4 linked regions of the Homo sapiens genome follow. The protein of the gene in region 1 purifies or fractionates together with the protein of each later gene. This does not show direct contact. Each region holds a gene or a part of one and is shown in the gene's direction. Other genes may lie near its edges.

Evidence for each region. Proteins that work in one complex are often made in the same cells at the same time.
Region 2: the proteins of OR13C3 (region 1) and BPIFB1 purify together in Homo sapiens (affinity purification with mass spectrometry; one large-scale study listed by BioGRID and IntAct). This does not show direct contact.
Region 3: the proteins of OR13C3 (region 1) and ALDH1A1 purify together in Homo sapiens (affinity purification with mass spectrometry; one large-scale study listed by BioGRID and IntAct). This does not show direct contact.
Region 4: the proteins of OR13C3 (region 1) and GDA purify together in Homo sapiens (affinity purification with mass spectrometry; one large-scale study listed by BioGRID and IntAct). This does not show direct contact.

Annotation. Positions count from the first base shown.
Region 1 is NC_000009.12:104,534,292-104,539,094, reverse strand, and holds OR13C3 (olfactory receptor 13C3), read left to right. Parts: upstream 1-2,238; 5' UTR 2,239-2,371; coding exon 2,372-3,325; 3' UTR 3,326-3,346; downstream 3,347-4,803. UniProt on the Homo sapiens protein: Odorant receptor.
Region 2 is NC_000020.11:33,299,104-33,304,382, forward strand, and holds part of BPIFB1 (BPI fold-containing family B member 1 precursor), read left to right. Parts: exon of another isoform or gene 1-750; intron 751-795; coding exon 796-881; intron 882-2,129; coding exon 2,130-2,309; intron 2,310-3,255; coding exon 3,256-3,309; intron 3,310-3,812; coding exon 3,813-3,971; intron 3,972-4,854; coding exon 4,855-4,922; intron 4,923-5,279. UniProt on the Homo sapiens protein: May play a role in innate immunity in mouth, nose and lungs. Binds bacterial lipopolysaccharide (LPS) and modulates the cellular responses to LPS.
Region 3 is NC_000009.12:72,910,885-72,916,163, reverse strand, and holds part of ALDH1A1 (aldehyde dehydrogenase 1A1), read left to right. Parts: intron 1-4,041; coding exon 4,042-4,206; intron 4,207-5,279. UniProt on the Homo sapiens protein: Cytosolic dehydrogenase that catalyzes the irreversible oxidation of a wide range of aldehydes to their corresponding carboxylic acid.
Region 4 is NC_000009.12:72,245,830-72,251,108, forward strand, and holds part of GDA (guanine deaminase), read left to right. Parts: intron 1-1,576; coding exon 1,577-1,604; intron 1,605-2,442; coding exon 2,443-2,513; 3' UTR 2,514-4,920; coding exon of another isoform or gene 4,921-5,009; 3' UTR 5,010-5,279. UniProt on the Homo sapiens protein: Catalyzes the hydrolytic deamination of guanine, producing xanthine and ammonia.

The DNA of each region.
Region 1 (4,803 bases):
TTGGATTTCTGACTCCTAGTAATATCTGCTCTACACAAAACTTCCCAGTGACTATCATGTGACCAACAGTCACAGTGTGGGGAAGAGTGGATGTGCTAACATTCTCAAAGCTATTAGCCCATGCAAAACCTACATTTGTGATTTTGACCAAAATTAAATCTAGTAGTGATTATAGAAAGATCAATTATCATGCCTATTCTGTAATTAGTGACAACTCCGCTAATCTAAATGCTTTAATTCCCTGAGTTACATTTCTACTAAAAAATCTTGTAACACCATATTCTATGAGGTCAAATTTAGAGAACTGCTAAAGTCTAATGGGCGAGGTGCTTACCCCATGCTCTGTGCTTTCTAATGATAGACCTCTTTTCCACCAAAAGAAATGACACTTTTTCTGCCTGATTTTAGAGCCTTTCTATATGCACCTGTCAGGCTTTCTTTCTCAGATGTGTTTCCCACCACTCTTTCACAGAAACTCCCTTGTGCTGCCAGTCGGCTTACTCCTAACTTTGGTCCAACTTCTCACTTTTGAGATATCCCTTTTCTCTTTTAACCCTGTCTAATTCTTTTCCATACTCCCAGGTTCAGCTGAACACTGAAACTCCGGAGTTCTCCTTGGCCTAATTTATTTCTCATAAAATTCTTCCTTCTGGGAAAAACTGTAATTTTCATGTAAGCTATAGAAAGTGACTGTAAATTATTTTGATATGTTCTTTTCTTATATCCCTACCTAAATTGTGAACTTTGTAATGACAGGCACTTTAAAAATGCTGCTTTTTAAAAATATGTGTTTCAATAATATTTTTAAAGGGTATTTTAAAAAATGGTGTCAATCTGGAGTTTCCGTAAAACATCAAAGAATTATGCTCTTGACATTTTCAAGGTTCTTATTGCCAATCTACACAATAAGGCAAAAAAAACTGGCTTGAATTAGAAACATCTAGATAATTGGCCAACTTAGTATAGACTAAGCCTTGCTACTCAAGTGATTTTGGGACCAGTGGCATAAGCGTCACCTGGGCACCTGCAAGAAATGCAGAATCTCAGGACTGGCCTGAACACTAAAAGAGAATCTGAAGGTTTTTAGGTTTCCCAGATGTTTGCCGGGTGTGGTGGCTCATGCCTATAATCCCAGCATTTTGGGAGGCTGAGGTGGGCAGATCACAATGTCAAGAGATGGAGACCATCCTGGCCAATATAGTGAAACCCCGTCTCTACTAAAAATACAAAAGTTAGCTGGGCATGGTGGTGCACGCCTGTAGGTGGAGGTTGCAGTCAGCCCCGATCGTGCCACTGCACTCCAGCCTGGTGACAGAGTGAGACTCTGTCTCAAAAAAGAAAAAAAAATTCCTAGATGCTTTACGTGTATATGAAAATTAGTGAAGCCAAGAACTAGACTTTGTGTCGAAAATATTAGCTTTACATTACATTTTATTATTTACTACCTAGTTAATCTTGGCCAAGTTCCATATTTTATAGTTGAAAAATGGGGTTAATATAAAGAATATTATAATTTGTAAATGGTAAAGTGGTATACATACACATGTATACATATTTATATGAAATATTTAAACATTATTACTGTTTTTATTGGTTGATTTAAATGAGTAAATTATCAAGACAGACTCTTAAGCTACAGAGTAAAATATGTAAAGACACTATATAATGTTCTCCAAAGACTATCACATTCATGCGGAGCTGTTCTGGGCAATGGTCTTGTCATAGGAACAGTCATAACAAGATACTATGAGATCAACAACTAACTATGCCTTTAAACAATTGTCAAATTTCAGGGTATGTGATTCAATGTATTATTATTAAGTGTCTGTAAAATACACAATTAAACTAACTATAAGGTATTAGTATCAGGCCTAGAAAAAAATATAAACACACAAAAATGTCAAAGTTGCTGTGAAATTTTAAACACTTTATAAATTGCTGAATTAAAATTCCAGTCTTTGTTGAGTAGTCTTTTGCCCCCTTTACTGCTTGTTTGCTGGGGTTGATGAAATGAAGATGTTAAGCTTAGAGTTGTTGATTGGCCAGGGGTTTTAGAAACCTCAGCTCGGGAGAGTGTCCTCAACTCAGGAACATGTCCTCAACAGCAGGAAAGGTTCCGTCTGCATGTGTGTCTGATCGTGGGTAGATCTTCACATATTGGCGATGCGGTATAGGTGCTTCCATCATTCCCAATTTCATTGTATTCTAGTCACACACATTACTGAAGATAACTGGATGTCAGAACTTCAAGCAAGCACTCCTTCTAATATGTGTCAAAAGAATGATTGTTCAGTTAATTTGTACTGTTTGTTTCTTGGCAGTAAATACATTTCATGTTAGATCTTCTTTTGATTTCCTGAAAGCAGATGACATGGGTGAGATTAACCAGACACTTGTGTCAGAATTTCTTCTTCTGGGTCTTTCTGGATACCCAAAGATTGAGATTGTTTACTTTGCTCTCATTCTAGTTATGTACCTAGTGATTCTAATTGGCAATGGTGTTCTAATCATAGCCAGCATCTTTGATTCTCATTTTCACACACCAATGTACTTCTTCCTGGGCAACCTCTCTTTCCTGGATATCTGCTATACATCCTCCTCTGTTCCCTCAACATTGGTGAGCTTAATCTCAAAGAAAAGAAACATTTCCTTCTCTGGATGTGCAGTGCAGATGTTCTTTGGGTTTGCAATGGGGTCAACAGAATGTCTGCTTCTTGGCATGATGGCATTTGATCGTTATGTGGCCATCTGCAACCCACTGAGATACCCCATCATCCTGAGCAAGGTGGCGTATGTATTGATGGCTTCTGTGTCCTGGCTGTCCGGTGGAATAAATTCAGCTGTGCAAACATTACTTGCCATGAGACTGCCTTTCTGTGGGAATAATATTATCAATCATTTCGCATGTGAAATATTAGCTGTCCTCAAGCTGGCCTGTGCTGATATATCCCTCAATATTATCACCATGGTGATATCAAATATGGCCTTCCTGGTTCTTCCACTGATGGTCATTTTTTTCTCCTATATGTTCATCCTCTACACCATCTTGCAAATGAATTCAGCCACAGGAAGACGCAAGGCATTTTCCACGTGCTCAGCTCACCTGACTGTGGTGATCATATTTTACGGTACCATCTTCTTTATGTATGCGAAACCGAAGTCTCAAGACCTGATTGGGGAAGAAAAATTGCAAGCATTAGACAAGCTCATTTCTCTGTTTTATGGGGTAGTGACACCCATGCTGAATCCTATACTCTATAGCTTGAGAAATAAGGATGTAAAAGCTGCTGTAAAATATTTGCTGAACAAAAAACCAATTCACTAATGAAACCAGGACATGTAGGTCTTTGTTTAACAGTCACAAAGATGGACTCTTAGGTAAATCAGCCTGAACCTTTTTTGGAGAAACCATGGTTAGAGAGACAGATTTTTATCCTTTGCCTTTACTAGCCCTGCTCATCTAGAATCACTGATAACTATAGTTTGCTACAAACTCCAGCATGCCCTGATCCACGTTTCACAAACATAATTAATTCTCTTAGAATCTCATCCCTTGTGATGTCTGAAATGAGTGTTTCTGTGTAGAAACATAGTGGAAAACAATCACACTATAAGCTTTGGAAATAGAGAGCAATAGTACAAAATCTGCAGTTCCGTAAACTACCTAGGTGATATTGGATAGATTATTCTTTCTTTCTAAGACATAGTTACCTTACTTGTAATAAGGAAATAAAATAATAAAAAAATCCAGGTCCCAATATCATTTAATGTTTCAATAAGTTGGAGGAAGCACCTAACATAATACTGGCTTCACAGTGTCCAAGAATTTCAGAATTGAAGCTAAGACTCCATAGTGAGGACTAAAAGTTGCTATTTATCCCCTCTTTTACTCTCAGCTAATAATTACTAGAGCCAGATGTCTCACTGAAAGTCACCCCATTAAGGTAATATTTTCTAAAATTTTAAAATTCAATATTTTCTAAAATTCTAAAAAAAATAAAAAAGAATTAAAAAAAGAAAAATTGGCCACCTCCCAAATATATCATTCTAATGTTTCTCTTAGTAAGTAGGAATCATGTATTCATCATGTTTTTATTTTGATTTATTAGATCTACTATGAGCACTTGGGCCAAATTTTTTTTTAATGTCCAACACATGTTTTCACAGGATAAATTCTAAGGCATGAAATTAATAGGCCAGGTGGTATAAACTTTTAAAGTTCCTGGCTAACTTACCATTGGAAAGGTCGTATTACTACCCTAAATACCATTATATGTTTCCCCCAATATGTTTGCAGCTCTATTTAAATACATACGCATACACACATATATCTCCATTTATACATACACACATTTGTGTTTATATATATATAAGAATATTTTTTCTTTAAAACATTTTTTTGAGAATTTTCATTTTCAAATATTTAACAAAAGAATGAGAATAATGAAAGTCAATGTATAATTGCACAGCTTAAATAATTACACATGGTCAACCTTCTTTCATCATTATCCATACCCACTTATCTTCTTCCTTTACTTTAAAGCAAATTCTGGACATAATTACATCATGTTATATATTATGTAATTATGTCCAGGACATCTGTGTGTGTACATATTTAAATGACACAAATCCAACGATCCCCATTCACATTGTAGTCTATGAGAATGCACTTCCAGAACACAAGTTGTGATATGAATGATGCCTCCTCCAATTAAGAATAAGACAGTGCTGGTGAGGACTGTGAACCATGAAAAGGGCACATGAGTCACATAAAAGACGTTATTTCTTACTTCAGTGGGTTGT
Region 2 (5,279 bases), on another chromosome or scaffold:
ATTTTAAGACGAGGAAACAGATTCAGACGCGAGAAGAGACCAGCCAAGGTCACTGGGGCTCAAACCGAAGTCCAGCTGGCTCCTCCGCTGCCCCGAGGACGGGCCCGGAGGTCTCCCTGGAGCGGTAGGCGGCCGGTCCCTGGCCCTCCAGCACTCCCCATCCTCGGCCATACACCGGGGCAGGTGACACACCACCGCCACCTGGCGGCCAAGTGGGGAATTCTGACGCGAACACGAGATCTTTGGGGGGAGCAGAGGAGCCAGTTTGGATTTCAGAGTAGATGTTACCAGGCCTCTGGCTTCCAGCCTAAGCTTCCTTGAGATCCAGGTGCTCATAGGGTGTCCAGACCCAGAACCACCTGCATGGGGGACGCGGCTTTCAGTCTGGTAGGGGCGGTGGAGTGTTACATACAATAGTTCAGTTCCGTTCCAAACCGGGACTTTGGCATAAAACCGACTGGGTTCCCATGCTCTCATAGTATGGCTTTGAACAGGTCATTTCCCTTTCCTCAGACTTGGTTTCACCATCTGTAAAAGGGGGTAATAATAAGACCTACTTCCTAACGTTATCATGCAGATGAACCAGCTGACATGCAGAGGCCTGGCACTTAGTGGATGCTCGATAAATGTCACTGTCATCACTGTTTGCATCATTATTATCAACATCATTATTACCTGCTCCTCCCTACCTGCCCCCCCATGCAACAGTACAGCTCCACCTGGAAGCAGCCCCCCAACTTCCCCCTCCAATACTGCCCTCCACCCTCACAGAACTTTCTTCTTGTCCTTGAGCAGTGCCCATTTCCCTCAGCATTGACCGTCTGGAGTTTGACCTTCTGTATCCTGCCATCAAGGGTGACACCATTCAGCTCTACCTGGGGGTGAGTGTCCCAGGACCTTGAGGGTGAAGTGGGGACATTGCTGCCCTTCTCTGACCACCAGGAGTCAGATAGCATGGGCCTGTGTTAGGAGAGAAAATCCTGGTCACCATTAGGACACGGGCTGATCTAGAAAAATCACTGCAGGCTGAATATGTCCCATGCAAGTTTGTTTTGTTTTGTTTTTTTGAGACTGAGTCTCACTGTCACCCAGAGTGACATGGGGGGGCCCGAGTGGGGACACTGGGCCCTCAGCCTTTCTCTCAGGCAAGTCCCTGCCAATCCCCAAACCTATGACAACCTTGAAACAAAAGCCAAGGATCAAGAAACACAGACCTAAGTTTCTCTCCTAGCTCTATGATTCCCTGGCTATGTGACTTTGGGCAAGTTCCTTTACCTCCCTGAGCCTCAGTTTCCTTGTCTGCAAAATGTCAGTAATAATGGCCACTGAGGAGAGGATGAAATGAGACCACACCATGCCTGGCAGACCAGAAGTGCCCAGTAACTGTCAGCTCCCTGTCCAATGTGGAGCTGCACAGCCATGCTGTGGCTGGACGCCCCAAAGGGCCAGACCATCCTGGTAGCATGAATCCCAGACTAGGTTTCTTTTGTTTTGTTTTTTTGAGACTGAGTCTCACTCTGTCACCCAGGCTGGAGTGCAGTGGTGCCATCACAGCTCACTGCAGCCTTGACCTCCTGGGCTCAAGCGATCCTCTCACCTCAACCTCCTGAGTAGCTGGGACTGCAGGCACTCGCCACCACGCCTGGCTAATTTTCTGTATTTTTTGTAAAGATGGGGTTCCGCCATGTTGCCCAGGCTGGTCTCAAACTCCTGGGCTCAAATGATCCTCCCACTTCGGCCTCCCAAAGTGCTAAGATTACAAGCATGAGCCAACACGCCTGGCCCCTGGACTAGTTTCTATGGATCCTTTGGAAAACTGCAGCATCAAATCGTTTCTTCCATTTTGTTGTAGTTTTTAATTTTCCCTCCATCCAAAGGGTTTGAGGTGTCTGAGAAGTTGAAGCATGGGAAAAAAAACGAAGATATCTGGTACAAAAAATAAAAGTCAGAGATTATCCGAGGGGCAAAGATGGAGTAGATGTTGCCACACACCTGAGCTCCAGGCTAAGCTTCCTGGCAACAAATGCACAAAAAGGAAACAGGCTGAATGGTGTCATTTCCTTCTAGGTTGCTATTGGGTAAGCTGCAGAGTTAAAATTCTTAGCTGACTCCCTGCTCTGTCTCCTCAGGCCAAGTTGTTGGACTCACAGGGAAAGGTGACCAAGTGGTTCAATAACTCTGCAGCTTCCCTGACAATGCCCACCCTGGACAACATCCCGTTCAGCCTCATCGTGAGTCAGGACGTGGTGAAAGCTGCAGTGGCTGCTGTGCTCTCTCCAGAAGAATTCATGGTCCTGTTGGACTCTGTGGTAAACCTCAGCACAAGGCAGAGAATAGGGCCGCCCAGGCCACATCATAGGAATTTCCTGAACACAGGGTGCCCCTAAGCAGGAATCCTCCATCAGGCTCAGTTTAATGGAGATCTCACTCCCTCCTCTAATAGACCCTGCCTCTGACATAGCTCTAAACCTAAAATCCTCCCGGTAACATCCAGCCCCAGTCATGGTTCTACCCTCTGGAATCTGATGCAAATGTTTCCTCTACCAAATAACAGTCTCGTGAAATCAAAAGGCATCTTAGATATGCAGTAGTCCAGGGGTGATAAATACATCTCAGATAGTGAGTAGTCCAGGGATGGCGACTGTGCCACTGCTCACCACTATGACACTCATGGCAGACATCACTAATCGATCAAGGCTCTCCTTTCTACTGAGTCTGGATGCTGACACAACCTTGGAATCCTTATTAACAGGGCACAGCCGATAACCACCACCAGTCAACTATGTTGTGCCACCTCCTCCCGGGTGACTGACGGGGAAATTGAGGTCCAGAGGGGGAAAGGGTTGGTCCAACGTTATGGGAGGATGGCAGAACTTCAGGGCAGCTGACAGACAACCAATAACCAAGCTCTCAGGGGACTGGGATGGCGAGAAAATAGGGAGTGGTCACCAACTAGCCCATTCATGATTGCAGTAAAAATGAAATCACCTCTCTATGTCCTCTGAGATCAGGAAGCTGCCCCCAGACCCACAACCATCACCAGCCCACAGTAAAAGTCCAGGCCAGCAGGACCCCATGCCCCATAGAAGCTGACCTAGGGGCTGTTTTTCCACCAATGACAGACACATGGCTTGGGTCACTGGGCCCACCCAGCTTTTCTGGGGTCCTGGGAAACCTTCCTCCCAGCAGTGGGGTGCAGGAGATGTGCCTCCCTGTGCCCTCCAACTGACCTTCTCTGGCTCCTCTCACCCTCAGCTTCCTGAGAGTGCCCATCGGCTGAAGTCAAGCATCGGGCTGATCAATGAAAAGGTTGGTCTGTTTGCCATCTGCAGCTTGAGGGGTGTTTGCTGTGGTCTGGACACAGGCCTCTGGGGAGGAGAATCTAGTGGGACTAGTGTTTCATTCCAGCACTGGGACACTCAAACCGCATCCCTGTCCGCACAGAGATTTCAGTCTAGCAGGCCAGTTTGACCTGAAGCAAATCATCACATGGATAGTATTTCCATTACAGCTGCAGTAACACAGGACAGGTTCTAGGGGCCATGAGAACACTCTGGGCCCCTGATACAGTCTGGGACGTCAGGGAGGCCTCCCTGAAGGGAAGGGCATTCCAGACAGAGGGAACAGGAGACCAAAGGCTGCCAGGTAGGGAGAACAACACAACATTCAAGGATCTGCAAGAAGGACAGGGTGGCTGGAACACGTGAGGGAGCAGGGAGCCCAGGAAGGCAGGCAGGGGCCAGGCCACACACAGAGCCTGTGGGCCATGGTGGGCACTTGGGAGGCCACATGTGGGTCTGATCTCCTTCCAGGCTGCAGATAAGCTGGGATCTACCCAGATCGTGAAGATCCTAACTCAGGACACTCCCGAGTTTTTTATAGACCAAGGCCATGCCAAGGTGGCCCAACTGATCGTGCTGGAAGTGTTTCCCTCCAGTGAAGCCCTCCGCCCTTTGTTCACCCTGGGCATCGTGAGTTCAGTTGTCTGCGATATTGGCAGCAACCAGGGGGACCCTTCTGTCTACTTTTCCTGTTCGCCCTCTTGCTTTGTTAAACATTTCCACCACTCTCATCACTTAGCAGGGACAGGGGACAGGGAGCTCTGAACCAAGAGCCAGGAGCTTTGTGGGTCCAATTCTAACCCTGTGACTTTCTTAGTCAGGAATCTCTGGACAGAAACTCAACTCATATGCACAAAAGGAATTGTATTAGCTCCTATAACTAAAAAGTCTAGATGCTATTGACTTCGGGAATAGCTGGACCCAGGTGCTCAAACAATATCCTCTTCATTCTCCTCTCTCCCACCTAGCAGCCTTGTTTTCCTCTGTGCTGCCTTCATCCTCAGGCAAGCTATTCCCTCATGGTAGTGCCCCAGGCTGCATTAGGCTCATATCCTATCAGCTTGGCAATCACCGCAGGAAGAACCTATCTTTCCAATAGTTCCAGCAAACATCTCAGGGCTGACTCTCACTGAATGAGCCTGAGTCAGTTGCCCATTCTTGAGCCAATCAGTGTGTCCAGAAAAATGGAATATGAAAACTTCCTGAGCTGGGCCACCTACACACTAGGGTAAGGGAGTGAGGGCTCTATGAATAGTGGCTGCTTTCGTCGTCGTCATCGTCATCATTATCATTCCCCACAGCAAGCCTAGACTGTCATCTGTTAAATGGGGAGTGGAGGCAAGTACTATCTCATTTAACAGATGAGGCAGGTGAGGCCCAGAGAGGTCAAACCCTTTGCCAAGGTCCCAGAGCCAGGAACTGAGATTCAGACCCCAGAGCCTCCCTGCATAACCCCTAATTCCACACTCGGATCCTCTTGAGAACAATGGGGCCTGGGCTTCTCTTGTTGCAGGAAGCCAGCTCGGAAGCTCAGTTTTACACCAAAGGTGACCAACTTATACTCAACTTGAATAACATCAGGTAAACACACAAATCATCATGAAGATTCTGCTGATGGAAATGAGTCCCGCCTGGTAACCATGGGTTTCTTTAAACACCGACTTTGTGGCTGTCAGGTGAAGGCGGCTCCAGGGTAGGCAGGGAGGTCCTTCCGGATGCTCCTGCTGACAAGGACTGCATGTGAGGGAATGGGGAGGAAAATGAAGTAGGCCTTGCAGCAGCCACGGCACAGGCAAACCCTAGCCGCGGCCAGCCCACTCTGGACACCTCCCAGGCCGTGGCAGTGACAGTCACCCGGCACAGAAGTGCAGGGCTCCAGCTGCCTCCTGCACCCTGCCTGTTCTCCCTCCCCGCCACTTTCCTGTGGCCCCAGAGTGA
Region 3 (5,279 bases), about 32 Mb from region 1:
TCTAGGGATATTTTAAGTTGTCACTACCTTGGTGAGAAGCGGTGGCTCTACAGGCATCTAGTGAGTAGAGGCCAGAGATGCTGCTAAACATCTTGCAGTGACCAGGACAGCCCCATGACAAAGAATTATCTGGCCCAAAATGCCAACAGGACAACTGCCGAGAAATCCTGCTCTGGAGTCTAGACATTAAGCTTAGAGGCTCTGTTCTTTCACAATAAAGGTTTTACACTGATGCGTGCTGTCAATTTGAAACCAAACGCTATTCTTGACTCATTCACTAAGCCAAAAGTAAATTCAATTAACTAAAAGTTAGTGAACGTTGCTATCAGCTAAAACTTGAGATGGGTACCTGGCAATGCCAAAAAGAACAAAGAGGACTTGATCCCGGACCTCATGGAGTTTACAGTCCAAGTAAGTTGGACAGTCTTGGATTTTCCTGTTCATCTCAAGACATCCAAGTAGGAAAATCTTAGGACTTAGGCAGTGTAACATATTGAAATCTAAAGGCCCTAAAATAAGCGGCAAGTGAGGTAATACTTTGTTTTATCTTAATCCCATTATATTTTGTATTTGTCTTTGAGTTTAATGAGTACTTAAAAGTAGTTGCCCTTTTTTTCATATTTGGTATATGGATGCCAAGAGATATATTCAAATCAGTTTTGACTTGGTCTCCCATTTCAAAAAAGAATGGAATTCTATGTTTTTTGTTGTGATTATTTATCTATCTAACTAAAAGTGAAGCACTTTTCTTATTTTGTTGATGGATTGATGGATGATTGATTGATAGATCTGAAGAGAGGAGAGAATACCTAAGATACCTAATGCCTAATTGTTGGGCAGTACTTTCCTCCATTAGGACATCTTCACAATTCAACCAAAGACTCAAAAATTGAGCTGGAATACCTCATTGATTTTAAGATAAGGAAGTTAAAATAGACTTAAAAATTCCTATTTGTAAGATTCTAAAGTAAATAATCCAGTGATCTAGAATTTAGTTTCTATAAATGAATAGAATCCAGTGATCTGATTAATATAAGAATTTAGTTTCTATAAGTGAATAGATTTTTATCACAAGTTCCATTGAGTCAGTAGGATAAGTAGGTATGTTAGAATTTGGAGAAACAAAAGACTAAAAAGCCCTGGGCTCCTTTACCATTAAATATTCATCTATTGTTAGGAGAAAAAACTTACGCAAAGGGGATACTCACTCACTAAGCTTTAGCCTATTGCCTCATCCAGGGGTGGTTGAGTGAACTGAGGCTTTTAAATACAATGATGGAATCTTCCTCATTAAATATAACATCAAAAAGGTTATAGAAAAAATAATGGTCAAAACGATTTGTTTTAGGGGAAAAAATTAAAGTTTAAAAAAATTTGAACATTACAAATTATTTGGGGGTTAGAGCAATTACAAAATATATATATATACTTTGCATATTTGTATTATATCTGTGGATTCATGTGTGTATCTTTTTCATATTTCAAGTGATTTTCCTATTTGACTTTATAGAAAAAATATATATTGTCTTAAACTTGGAAAAATTAGTATTTTCATTTGAAACAGAAATTGTGATAGCCACATAAACGATACTAAAATTATCACAGAGTAGCACCTTATAATAGTGTGGAAAGATGGACTTTGGAGTTACAGTTATATAGGATTTAAACTGGATTTAAAATCCAGCCTCCCTGAAACTATTGTCTTATGTGTAGAATGTGCATAGAAACCTCAATCTTGAAGAATAATTCTGCAGTGCAATTGGATAATCTATAAAATGTATCCATCAGAGTGCTTGGTCCACATGCTCAAATGTCTAGTAAATAAATAAAAATTACATGCTTCCATTTATACCCATGGTGACAATTATCATACAGATCAATTACTTCTATATCTATTCATTGCTTTTGTTGATACATGGTTTCTGAATAATTTGAGAACATGTAAGTGCTTTTTCCCAATTCATCTTCTTTAACCCATTAAGCCTAAGGAATCAAAGAATTTACCCATTCAAACACCTTAAAATGTTTCCTTTGAGACTGTTACCATATCATGACCTACCTAATACATTTCATAGACTAGCCCATAGGCCAATGGCCCATCACATGAAAGAGCCCCAGCTACATCCTAGCATTATTGGACAGTCCCAGGTGTCCAGAAAGAAGGTCAAGTTTATATATGGTCAGCCTGATGCCTTCTGAAGAAGGTCTGTATTTGTGGTGAATCAAAATTAGCCAGACAAAACTGACCAGTCTCTAAGTAGAGCCTAATTTTTTGTTTGTAGTCCCAAGCTCCACCACAGTGTTCCTCAATCTTTCCTGTGCCCGGGGATTCAGTAGATCTGAGGTGGGGTCAAAGAAGCACATTTGGCTACCAAGTGATGCCACAACTGCTGGTTGTAGGACCACATTGTCGGTAGCAAGGCACTGAAATACAAAGGCCTGTAGTTTTATAAGTTAGCGACCATCTAAGTTTTCCAACAAATAAGGCTTTTCAGCCCTTTTCTCCAGTATGTATGCAGGGATTTGATTGGCACTGGTTATTCAACGTGGTCACAGACAGGAAAACATGACTTGGGAAATACATCTTGAAATAAAAACCAGATATCATGATGTTGAGGGCATAGTCAGATTAATATGTTCCAATAAGACAGAAAGCTTTATGTGGAGTGACATGGACCCTTGACTATTTATTGAGAAACTAGAATACCTTACCCAGGCAGAATTTATCTCACCCCACCCCTTAGTCTGCTACTATTCAACCTATGTAGTAATTTAAATATTTCTTCTTAACACTATTTTTTTCTTAATCTGCTGGAAATGAAGGAATATTTTCCTTCTGGGATATTATATTAAATATTGCACTAAAGACTGTTGAGCAACATTGTACCAAATATTGTGCCAAATTTTAGAAAATAGTTTCTAGTTTCAAATAGTGCTTAATCTAGTTAGATATGGGGGCTGAGCTGTATTCAGTTAGAAATAACTTTATGGAAGCTTTTTCTTGGCTTTGGAAGATAAAGAAGATTTGCAGAGTCAGAGAAGAGTAAGAGAAAGTGAAACATAAAACTTTTCAAGTAGTGGGAAGTTAAACCTACAAGAGCTTCCACCCTCCAACCCATCTTAGCTCCTAGATCTCCTGTTTTTCCTTTAATCCTTAACCCCTGCTACACCTGAGATAGGCAGCCCTCACCGGTTACTTGGAATCCAAGAGTCACCCAGTTATTCAATGTCACAAAATAGAAATTGAGACAAAAATTAGCCCCAGATTTCAGTGCTTGAAGAGGTACGTGTTCCTGGTGTTCACAACCAGAACTCCAAACTCATTTATTTTCCTTATAAAAATAGTGTTTAAATAAAGACGATTTAAGTTCTGTAATACTTGGCACATAGTTAGATGTGGCTCATTTAATGAAGCAGGATGGTGACATTCAGGACAGGCCAGAAATTGGAAGCAGATTTACTGACTGCCCCAGTGGGACCAGAACTGGGAAGGGTGCGCAGACTATGGTCAGAATGGGATATCCAAGGGCATCGGACAGGTCAGAGTGGGTGATTCAGAAATGGGGAGATCAAACAGAGGCTCGGGAGTCTTCTAAGAACAGTCTTAAAGCATCTGCTTCCCAACAGATCTAATTAAACTCAGTATCAAAGTTCTGTTTTTCTCTTTTCCCTCCTTTCATTTCAGCCGGGACAATAGTTTCCAGGTAAATGTATTTAGATTAACAGGCATTTCTTCCAGAGTGAATAAATGATGATTGTCATTTATGTGTTTTTTATGTGTTTGCAGTGCTGAATGCTTTCCTATATAACTATAAAACAAATGTTAAATACAAATATCTGTCTTCAAGAGATTTTCCCCTAAAAGTCATGAGAAGAAAATATATCCAAAGAATGAATCTGAACCTCTGTTAGCTGTTTCGATTCAATATTTGGTTTAATTGCAATATTTTAGCATTTTGAAGCCCTTGTTAACAGGCCCAGCAATGTGTTATCTTTACAAGTGACTACTTTTTTTCTTTTCATGTGATATTTTTCAAATAGATTGACAAGGAACAATATGATAAAATACTTGACCTCATTGAGAGTGGGAAGAAAGAAGGGGCCAAACTGGAATGTGGAGGAGGCCCGTGGGGGAATAAAGGCTACTTTGTCCAGCCCACAGTGTTCTCTAATGTTACAGATGAGATGCGCATTGCCAAAGAGGAGGTAAATGGCTTCATTCTGTTCTGTTCTTTTTGTTGCCATGTTTTGTCTGTTTGTGTGTATACAAAGTGTCACTTTAAAATTCCCAGCTCTTTGGAACATCTTTCCCTCTAAACCTTACTCTTTATTCTGTTCTTGATAGAGGTTTAAGTTATTTGTGATAGATACTAAAAAGTAGTAAGGGATCCATGGGGCCAGCCACAAATGTTCAGCCAACACAGATCTGGATGCTTAACAATTTTCAGGTGCTGCCTTCACAGCTTTAAAACAATGGAAAAGAATCCTGTCATTTGCAGCAACAACCTGGAAAATTTATGCTCCATGAAATATGACAGGCATAAAAAGACAAATACCGCAGGGTCTCACTTTTATGTGGGATCTCAAAGAGTAGAACTCATAGAAGCAGAGATTGGAATGGTGGTTACCAGGGGCTTGGGGGAGTGGAGGATGAGGGTTGGGAAATGTTGGTCAAAGGATTCAAACTTTCAATTAGGAGGAGTAAGTTCAAGAGAGCTATCGTAAATATCCTGACTGTAATTAATAACAATGTATTGTATACTTGAATATTGCTAAGAGAGTCAATTTTAAGTGTTCTCACCACAAAAGAGATAAATATATAGGTTCTACTTTCTGGTTCCACCTTTGCCCTATAGACTCTTTCTATATAACAGCCATCCATGTATTTGAAAACAGCATTCATCCCCTCTATCACTCCCTACCTTCTATGTGCTCTTAGTCCTATTTGTTTCAGCTGTTAGACTTCCTGATTTTGTATATTGCAGTTAAGTGTTTGGTGAGTGTATATATGTGTGTCTGTATACATATATAATGTGTATATACATTATATATATGCTCACCAAGTATTTAACTACAATATACAAAATTAGAAAAAAAATGAGCTGTCATTCTTGCATATCTTGATTAATACCAGATAAGACGTGGAAAAAAATCTTCAATTAAGGAAACATTTATTGTGTTCCTATAATATATTAATATACAGTAGAACAGCTAGCTTGCTACTTCAAAGTAGGAGCCTGGAGCTATGTGCTGTGTTCAATTAAAATTATGTAAAATAT
Region 4 (5,279 bases), about 32 Mb from region 1:
TTCTCTTATTATAAAATGTTTTTCTATGGATAAAATAAACTAGTTCATCTTACCTGAAAAATAATTCCTTGTAAGATATTGAGTTCTTCCTAAAAAAAGAATTAAGTATTGCCATTTCTAAATTGATCTACTTGTGAGAGTAATTGCGATAATAAATATGTTAAAGATTTTAAAAGAAAAATTCTGTATTATATGAAGTTTGTACCATTTGTTATTATAAAAGAGGAAAAATATATTTTTCTCTACCCATCTTAGGGTCAAGGCTGAGGTCACTATAACAAGAGACAGATTTAACAGGAGAAAGGCATACACATTTATTTAATATAAATTTTTTTGAGACGGAGTTTTGCTCTTGTCGCCCAGGCTGGAGTGCAATGGCATGATCTCAGCTCACTGCAACCACTGCCTCCTGGGTTCAAGCAGCTCTCCTGTCTCAGCCTCCCAGGTAGCTGGGATTACAGGCGCCCACCACCACACCCACCTAATTTTTGTATTTTTGGTAGAGACAGGGTTTCACCATGTTGGCCAAGCTGGTCTTGAACTCCTGACCTCAGGTAATCCACCTGCCTTGGCCTCCCAAAGTGTTGGGATTATAGGCGTGAGCCACTGTACCCGGCCTATTTAATATAAATTTTATGTGACATAGGTGCCTTCATAAGGAAGTGAAGAACCCAAGAAACAGGTAAACTTGGATATTTTTATGCTAGGTTTGATGAAGAGTGGAAAGTTGTAGAGAAATATGATAGGACAAAGAGTGTGGTCCAGTGGTAATAAGCTAGAGAGAACTTAGCAAGGCCTGCTTGTTCAGATTCTTCTCTGTGATCCTTTAGCTTCAGAGATCAGGTATAGGGAGGGCACCCCTTACGTGATGGTCTTATGACCTGCATTGGGGTAAGGGGTAAGGGGAGGGTCAGAGTGACCTTCCTGTGTTTGATTTGAGGGTAGCGTGTCCTGACCCCCTCATTATTTTCATATTGCTTATTCTTTTACTCTCTGATTAGAGTAAATTTCTAAGAATAGGGCTCTAGGGAATAGTCCTAGTGATTTTTCTTATATCAGGGGTGTCCAAGGGAGTTCTTAGTTTCTGTTTCAGGTTGTGCCAGTAAAGCCCCCTCCCTCATCCCTCTTTTCTGCTTATCAGTAGAGACAGAAACTAAAAACCATGGCTTCAGGCTGCTAAAAGCCTAAAACAAAACATAACAAAACAGAACAACAACAACAAAATAAGGCAGGTTGGATGAGCTTGTCTTACATCATACCCGTCTTGAAATATTTGAATTATTTTACTAAATTAATTTCTTTAATTTATATAATACCTTTTCTCTGATGACTCAAAATTCACATACCCAGAACTTTCACACAATAGGTAAACTTCTGTTAATTGCCAGTGGGTTATTTTTTGTTCTGGGAGGTTTTTATAAAGCACATAGCCACTTCTTTTTTAATTAATAGAAGTAGATTTTGCCATTGAGAAACAAATTCGTATTTCTGGGCTTTGTCAACCACTATCAGCTGTGAATTTACTTTTCTAAATGCACAAATGAGTCTTTCTTATTACTTTTATTTTCCATTTTAGGCTGTTATCCAGAAGTTCCTCTATCTAGGTAGGTAGATGCATGTCTCTATGCTAAATATTAAATAGAACCTTTCCCTGTCTTTTTCTTGGGTATGGCTCTATGTATTTATCCTACCATATATTAAACTCTGTGGATGATAATTTGCTTTGATTCATTATTTTTTTAACAGTCTGAAGCATCAAGCCCATTGGTGGCACATTATTTAAAGGTTCTATTTGAAATGCACATGACTCCCTCTAGTCATAAATTCTAAGCTGAGGAATGGAAGGCCAAAGGTGAAGAGATCTTCATGTTCAACCCTCTTGTACTCATTCGGTATCTGACATACTGCCCTGCCATGTTTTTGTGACAAATGTATAGTAGAGTCTCACCACACGTGCTGGTGATGTACTCACATTCAATTCCATTCACTGAGAGAGAGAGAAACAGTAATGCAGAATATTCTACACTGCCTCCCATTCTGTTCAGTGAGCCCAGGACTGAGTGAACTCAAGATGGAAAGATGCATGTGTTACTTCTTGTGGAGCTGATTCTGGAGCGTAAAGAGTAGTATTTCTTTCTCAGTGGGGGCAAAATGTAAACCAACCACTTCAGCTGAGAAAGGACAGCTATAGGGGGTTGATTCAACTTTATGTGATTTCTGCCTCTGGTGCAGAATTCAGACCCTAATCATCAAATTAGCTATGGCATTTTCTACTAGTCATATCTTCCTGTTCAGATTATAAACAATCTGAGGGTTGGGGGAAAGCAGCTTTTAGTATTTCCTCTCCTAGAAGTATCTTTAAAAAAAATCTCTCCCAATGGCAAGGAAGATACTTATTGACACAAAAGGATTTTATACATGATTCCTTGATTTTTCTTTCAGGAGATGATCGAAATATTGAAGAGGTTTATGTGGGCGGAAAGCAGGTGGTTCCGTTTTCCAGCTCAGTGTAAGACCCTCGGGCGTCTACAAAGTTCTCCTGGGATTAGCGTGGTTCTGCATCTCCCTTGTGCCCAGGTGGAGTTAGAAAGTCAAAAAATAGTACCTTGTTCTTGGGATGACTATCCCTTTCTGTGTCTAGTTACAGTATTCACTTGACAAATAGTTCGAAGGAAGTTGCACTAATTCTCAACTCTGGTTGAGAGGGTTCATAAATTTCATGAAAATATCTCCCTTTGGAGCTGCTCAGACTTACTTTAAGCTCAAACAGAAGGGAATGCTATTACTGGTGGTGTTCCTACGGTAAGACTTAAGCAAAGCCTTTTTCATATTTGAAAATGTGGAAAGAAAAGATGTTCCTAAAAGGTTAGATATTTTGAGCTAATAATTGCAAAAATTAGAAGACTGAAAATGGACCCATGAGAGTATATTTTTATGAGGGAGCAAAAGTTAGACTGAGAACAAACGTTAGAAAATCACTTCAGATTGTGTTTGAAAATTATATACTGAGCATACTAATTTAAAAAGAGAACTTGTTGAAATTTAAAACGTGTTTCTAGGTTGACCTTGTGTTTTAGAAATTTGCACTTAATGGAATTTGCATTTCAGAGATGTGTTAGTGTTGTGCTTTGCCTTCTTTGGCGATGAATGTCAGAAATTGAATGCCACATGCTTTCATAATATAGTTTTGTGCTTCAAAGTGTTTGACAGAAGTTGGGTATTAAAGATTTAAAGTCTCTTAGGAATATTATTCATGTAACTCCATGGCATAAATAGTTGTATTTTTGTGTACTTTAAAATCAACTTATAACTGTGAGATGTTATTGCTTCCATTTTATTAGAAGAGAAACAAATTCCATGCTTTATGGAATTTATGTAGACTGGAGTCTTCGTGAACTGGGGCAAATGCTGGCATCCAGGAGCCGCCAATACTAACAGGACAGGTTCCATTGCCATGGCCTATTCCACCCAAACAATATGTTGTAGTTTCTGGAAATTCCATACTCAGATATCAGTCTGCTAGAACTTTAAAATGAAGGACAAATCCTGTTAAAGAAATATTGTTAAAAATCTTTAAACCCTGTGTATTGAAAGCACTCTATTTTCTAATTTTATCCAGTTTTCTGTTTAACTCCTTATAATGTTTAGGATATTAAAATTTTAGGATAATGAAGAGTACATAATGTCCTACTTAATATTTATGTTAATAGGACTTAATTCTTACTAGACATCTAGGAACATTACAAAGCAAAGACTATTTTTATGCTTCCATAACCTAGAATTAAAACCAAATTATGACCTTATGATAAATCTTTAAGTATTGGTGTGAATGTTATTTAAATTCTATATTTTTCTTATTTAATTACAAATACTATAAATGAGCAAGGAAAAGGAATAGACTTTCTTAATATATTATAACACTCATTCCTAGAGCTTAGGGGTGACTCTTTAATATTACCTTATAGTAGAAACTTTATGTAATATAGCTAACTCCGTATTTACAGAACAAAAAAACACAGTTCCCCCTCCTGTAGTATAAATTTTATTTTCACATACTTAGCTAATTTAGCAGTAATTGGCCCAGTTTTTTCCCTAATAGAAATACTTTTAGATTTGATTATGTATACATGACACCTAAAGAGGGAACAAAAGTTAGTTTTATTTTTTTAATAAACAACAGAGTTTGTTTTGTGAGATAAGTATCTTAGTAAACCCAATTTCCAGTCTTAGTCTGTATTTCCAATATTTCTAATTCCTGAGCCACGTCAAAGATGCCTTGCCAAATTTCTCCCCATTTCTCTACGGGGCTAGCAAAAATCTTCAGCTTTATCACTCAACCCCTGCCAAAGGAACTTGATTACATGGTGTCTAACCAAATGAGCAGGCTTAGGAATTTAGATGAGATGTGTAAGATTCACTTACAGGCAGTAGCTGCTTCTAGCATTTGCAAGATCCTACACTTTTACCTTCTTTAAGGGTGTACATTTTGATGTTGAACATCAGTTTTCATGTAGACTTAGGACTCATGTGCAGTAAATATAAATAAGTGTAGCATCAGAAGCAGTAGGAATGGCCGTATACAACCATCCTGTTAAACATTTAAATTTAGCTCTGATAGTGTGTTAAGACCTGAATATCTTTCCTAGTAAAAATAGGATGTGTTGAAATATTTATATGTACTTTGATCTCTCCACATCACTTATAACTTATGTGTTTTATTTCTCCAAGTGCGGTGTTCCTGAATGTTATGTATGCTTTTTTTTCTGTACCACAGGCATTATCTATACCTGGGGCCAGATTTTCTGCACTTTGAAATGTTGCCTTTGCCTAATGTAGGTTGACTTTCTGAATTGTGGAGAGGCACTTTTCCAAGCCAATCTTATTTGTCACTTTTTGTTTTAATATCTTGCTCTCTGACAGGAAAGAAACAATTCACTTACCAGCCTCCTCACCCCATCCTCCACCATTTCCTTAATGTTCCATGGTATTTTCAACGGAATACACTTTGAAAGGTAAAAACAATTCAAAAGTATCGATTATCATAAATTCACAAAATATTTTTGCAACCAGAACACAAAAGCAGGCTAGTCAGCTAAGGTAAATTTCATTTTCAAACGAGAGGGAAACATGGGAAGTAAAAGATTAGGATGTGAAAGGTTGTCCTAAACAGACCAAGGAGACTGTTCCCTAATTTATTCTCTTGGCTGGTTCTCTCATTGAATTATCAGACCCCAAGAGGAGATATTGGAACAGGCTCCCTTCATGCCAAGGGTCTTTCT